2 separate regions of the Homo sapiens genome follow, and region 2 is linked to region 1. A link means that fine-mapping ties the variant in region 1 to the expression of a gene that starts in the linked region. Tissue or cell type: whole blood. Region 1 holds a variant in brackets; the other region holds the start of a gene. All regions are shown on one strand. Distances are from middle to middle.

The links. PIP is the estimated chance that this variant, and not a neighbour inherited with it, causes the effect.
Region 2: it holds the start of DPY19L1, and the variant in region 1 is fine-mapped to the expression of DPY19L1 in whole blood (INTERVAL, PIP 0.98).

The regions. Positions count from the first base shown.
Region 1 is chr7:34,945,566-34,948,325 of GRCh38, forward strand. It overlaps DPY19L1 (dpy-19 like C-mannosyltransferase 1), which reads right to left. Exons shown (of 22, transcript NM_001366673.1): 15 at 2,065-2,136; 16 at 102-151. The region is part of intron 2 of LOC102724723 (a long non-coding RNA gene); the gene reads left to right. Among named protein-coding and RNA genes, the nearest start is that of MIR548N, 6.1 kb to the left of the region's middle. The variant G/A (reference allele first, on the strand shown) is at 1,420.
Region 2 is chr7:35,036,243-35,039,002 of GRCh38, forward strand. DPY19L1 (dpy-19 like C-mannosyltransferase 1) reads right to left here and starts at 1,243. Exons shown (of 22, transcript NM_001366673.1): 1 at 855-1,243. The coding sequence starts at 1,152. It overlaps LOC105375228 (a long non-coding RNA gene), which reads left to right and starts at 544. Exons shown (of 3, transcript XR_001745162.3): 1 at 544-679. RefSeq lists silencers at 933-1,102, 1,133-1,802 and an enhancer at 1,853-2,082.

The DNA of each region.
Region 1 (2,760 bases):
AATATTAGGTACACAACATGTAAGTATACAATTAATACACTGTAAATATCTATTTAATAAATGAACAGAGGAGGTAATAAAATTCTTAATAGCATATTTACCTTACATGTGTCTGTTGTTTAGCTAAGACACCCCACATATCACTAATAATCTGTAAATAGATTTTGAAACACTTTAGAAAAGCTGTGTTGGGAAAAATGATATTTTAAATAAAGTATCTTCTAAACTGTAAAATAACTTTTAATGAAAATATAAGTATAGAGATAACTCAGAAAATAATAATCACAACAACATAATCTTATATTTGTATAGTATCTGATCAAAGCTAATATTCAACAACCCTGTTGGGTAGATTATATCATCCTCGTTTTGTAAATGAGCAACAGGTTCATATGGATTAAATGATTGCCCTGTAGGTAGACAACTACTAAGAAGCACTGCAGTCTTGAAACCAGATCTTCTGGCTTCAAATTCACATTCAGCGCTGCTTCCACCATGCCAACGTTGTTGGCAACACCTCTTCTTAACAGTGCACTCAGAAAACTGGAGAGCTGGCTCAGAGGTTGATAATCACAGCTGGAAGCATTCAAAACACAGTCACTGTGCTTTCATATTCAGCAATAATGAGGAGGTCATCTAATCTAAAATCGTATCTCCAGTACAAATATTCTCTACAACACTGATGACAGGCTGTAATCCAGCCCTTAGAATCCACCAGCTGCTGCTTGAATCTATAACACTTTCCTTATCAGTCGAGATCAGTTCTGGTCAAAAGTCATACCTCCTGGAATTGGCCATGATTCTAAGGAGCCAGATTGTGTGTAACCTTATTTTCAAGGCACAGGCTTTTACCATATTTCAAAGTAATTATCCGCTTTCCATCTACATCTTTTCTTCTTTAAACGAAACAGCCTAGCTAATAGTTTTCATCATCTCTCACCACTCAGGTTGCTGTCTTTTGCATATGTTCTGGATGGCCAATGCTTAGTATTTTTTGAGTACCCACTAGGTGCAAACCCACATAAACTATACAAAAGTGCAAAGCACACACAAAGCCTAGCACACAGCAGGAACTGACTCTTAACTGATTAGAGATTAAAAGTGCTGTCGGAGTACACAGCTGAATACCAGACATAGCCCAACGATAGGGGAAGGTGCAGAGCCCGAGTCTCACTCTTCCCTTGCTTTTAAGTGGACATGATGCGAGGCTCCTAACAACATCTTTGATCTTTCAGTTCTGTATGTTAAAATGGAGATAACATTTGTCTACCCCATAGGGCTGTTGAATAACCAATTTAAATACTCATGTGAAAATGTTCTATACAAAGCAGAGTACAAATATATAATATGAACAATTGTTATAATACAGAATATTCTACAAATAAATGACATTGTGTTAACACAGAAATCACTGGCCAC[G/A]TATCAGGAAACTTTTAAGGTCTGTCGTCTCTTTTTCCATCACAGATTAACTTCTGTTCATTCTCTTAAGACACATTTGGTTACAGAGTGCACAATTCTTAAAGAAAAAAAGAGAGGGAATATCACACTTGCTTTGATCTTATTTATATCTGGGCTTTGAATTTTATCGTCAAAGCCAACTTGGGGACCTAAACATTTTATCTAGTTCATCAACACATTGCAAATACTCTGTTTTTTCTTTCTGATTAATAATAAACACAATCCAGGAGTTATTGCACACTGCACAAATCACTTAGGTATATTTTAAATATTTTAGGGAAATATTACATTAAAGGTAAAAGCCAGTAATAATTTACACAGGCAAGTTGTATCTGGGTCAATATGGTCTCTGATCATGCCTTCCAAAATACATGACTATCGGAACTTGAGCCATCCTTTTCTGATGTCTGTTTTATGCTAGCAGATAGAATATTTTGAAGCTATATAAATGTCTATCAAAAGCTATCATTAAGAAAACATAGAATATGTTACAGTAAGCCCATACAAAACGTTGTATCAGATAAATGTGGCCAAGTATATGCGACTACTATGTAAAAACAAGAAAATATTCTATTATAAGAAAGAGCTCTTAAGTGATAGACATACCTTTCTAACAATAGCAACAAACACTACAAGAACAACTGGAAGCAATAATGTCTTTGTGTATCTCAGTGGAGTCTGAAATTCAAAGAGATGTTTTGTTAGAAGGAAACATTTTAACCAAACAAAATTTCATTTCAAATAATGAAATAGGTAAATTTCTGAAAGTAGAGAAATATGAACATTCACCAATCTACTCACTGACTGCCATCATAAAAAGGAAGGTGCATTTCCATAGAAATGAACTTCCCCAAAATGCTGAGTTGAAACACTAAAAATACAGTACCCAAACACCTGTAAGTGTGAAATGTCACTGAAGAGATTACTGCTCACTTTTTGCATGCTACTTATCTAACTAGAGAGACCAACTTAATATTCATCTAAGGTATGTAAAGCTCCTTAAATGGAATAAGCTTTTCCTGTATATTTTGTGGGGGATAAAAATATTATCCTTGAAACACACACACACACACTTTCTCACGCATAAACAAAATAATGATCTATGTTTGAGGGGAACAAAAGGCTTTTACATTTTCTTTAGTAGCAGAAAAAAAATAGAAATAAGTTTAATAACAAAGCCCTACACATTGTGAGCCTGTGCACCTCTCAATTATCTCTCCACCCAAAAAACCACTGTTAAAATTTTGCTTTTATACTTTTTTTACTTTTATGTGTGTTAATTATGGGTTAATAAGACTATAT
Region 2 (2,760 bases), 91 kb after region 1:
GCGAAAAGCCCACTGAGGCATATAGAAAAAAGCAATGTAACAGCATTTCACTAGTTGACTTAGAAAAATTAGGCCTGTTATCCAAACTGCTACAACTTGCCTTATCAAAATTCAACCAGGAAACAGAGGAAACCTGAAGTCAGTCCGAAACATACGAATGCGTCAACTTTGTTTTTTTTTTTCAGCACATCATTACACATCATCCATTTGGTAAATGGCAGAGGGAGGGGAGGAGAGCCCTCCTCACCAAAGGTTCCAAGGGCAGCAGGGAGGATTAAGGCTCGGGCGCCCCAAACACAACACAACCTAGAAAGTGACGTGTCGAGGGGAATCACAAATAAAGTGCCACCAGCGGCGTTTGCGGCCAGGAAGAAAAAAGTACGCTAAAATTTAATTATAAGTTTAAGCAACTCTCTACGACATGGAACGTGCGTTTGCTTTGAGCTCCACGGAATCGTTTCCAAGCCAAAGCAAACCATCCTGGCGGTCAGAGGCCGAGATAACGGGAAGGCGGCCAGTCGTACCAATCAGCAGCGCTCAAGTCTCGTTAGCGCAGACCTGCTGCCCGCGGCCAGGCCGGGCAGCTGTTGATCCCCGGGCCATTCTTTTAAAGCCCAGGCAGAGCGCGGGTGGGAAGCGTGCGAGGAGAGCTGAGCCAGGGAGTTGCGGGGAGGAGAAGGTAAGAATGTCCCAGAGAAAAAGTCGGAGAGGGCTGCAAACTGGCTGGTCCGGCTGGCGGGGCTCGGCGCGGCGGAAGCGGGAGGAGAGGGGAAGGAAGGGGAGGGGAGGGGAGGGGAGGGGGCCAGCGCCTCAAAGTTCCGCGTCCCGGCGGCGCCGGCGCTAGGGCTGCTCACCTAACAGGAGCGTGGTCCAGGTCCGGCCGCGCCCCGCGCGCCGCAGGCCCAGCGCCCAGCGCAGCCGGGCGGCCAGGCGCCCCCCAAGGCCGCCCCCGGCGGGCGGCGCGCCGGGCTCGGCGCGGGGCCCCTTCCTGCCCGCGGCGCCCTTGCGCCCCGGGGACAGGGGCGCGCGCTCGGGCCCCGGCTCCCCGGCGCCGACGTCCGACGCCCCCCTCAGCGGCGACTGTGAGGCGCGGGGTGGCTGGGGCGGCTTGGGAGCCGCCTCCCGGTGCTTGTTCCGCGCCTGCAGGACCATCTTGGCATAGTCGCGCCCGCTCGCTGCGCGCGCCCGGACGGCGGCCAGAGAACGGCGGGCTGGCTGGGCGGCTGGGCGCAGCTCACTCTCCAGCGGGCGGGCGGGCGGAGGGTGGAGGGCGGGCTCGTCCCTCCCCGCGGGCCGGGAGGCGGGGAGATCGTGGAGGCCGGGCGGCTGCTGCCTGGCTGGCAGTACCGCCGGGAGGCGGCGCCGGACTTGCTAGCCCGCCGCCGTTGCCGCCGCTCCGGTTGTCACGGCGACCGCGGAACGCCGGGGGGCGGGGGCGGGGACACCCTGCGAGCGGCCGCGGCCCCGCCCCCGCCGCCCCTCTGCGCCGGACGCGCGCTCCAGGCCGGCCAGCGCGCACGCGCGGACTTCCGGCGCAGGCGGGGCCCGACCCCTCTGGCGCCCGGCTACCCACACCTCTTCGGCGCCCGCGCGGGGCTCGGCCGGTGCGAGGACGCGGGGGCGGACGGCCTTCCGGAGGCGGCCGCCCTTCCATTGTGGGAGTGATGGGGCCGAAGGAAGAGCCCTCTCGGGATCGGGGCGCTGATTCAAGTTTCGGAGCCTGTTAAGGCTGCGCTTGGAGCCCGCGCAGGCGAGACGCGGCGGGGCAGGGAGAAGGCGCCCGGAGCGGCCACTTAGGGGCGCTGTGCGTGCGCCCTGGGCGCCTGGTCGGCCCCACCGATGTGAAGCGCGCGGGTGGCAATCAAGTCACCGTCTCCGTTTACTCCCCGCAGTGTGGTCGCGCAACTTGGAGCGCAGCCCCTCACTCACCGACAAGAAGAACGGGTGCGACCCGATTTAAGATAGTAACAGAGTATTAAAATAGCAGCCTGGAATCTCATGGGGAGCTGATAAGGGACGAGGCACAAGTGTAAACTGAAGACCAGGGTAGGAGCCAGGCTGAAGGTGATAGGATGGATTGGCTGGAGCAGGAAAGATCATCAATAAGTACATTCAGTTTGTTACACTTGCTGTAACCTTGTTGCTTAATAGGAAGCAGGAAAACTTGGCGTTGATAAGATAGGAGATTTTAGTCGAAAATATGTTTTCTTTTACATAGCAGAATGCACGAGTAAATTAAACCCGGGAAAATTTAGAAACCCAGGTAGATCCCAATTCTCCCTCCACCCCTGCATTCTTTGCACACAGTCTTACAACAGCATGGATTACAACTGGGAGGTTCCTTTCCTGGCCGTGCCCAGTGGCTTGTTCCAAAAAGTTGTCTTTAAGTCCCAATGTTGTAAATCAAGGCCCATCGTTCTGCTTATCTCTATTGTAATTCCAGGGACTTCACGTGGCTTTCTCGCTCTTTGTTTCTTTGCCCAGTGATTTCTTTACTAATACCAGCATTCGTTCATTGTTAGCCTTTTTAAGAGACAGTGGATTATTTTGTAAAGGGAGGGTGTTTGCCATGCTAATTAATACTCCCTCATACCCTGTCTAGTTTATGAATTTGGATTTTCCAATGTCTTTATTGGAGCAAAGAACAACTATTTTTATACACTGGTTTAAAAAATAATGGTTGAAAGTAGGATGCAGAAGGCTTGGATTCTGAAACATTGTGTCAGCTGAACTCAATGCTACCTCTGGGATTAATGTTGA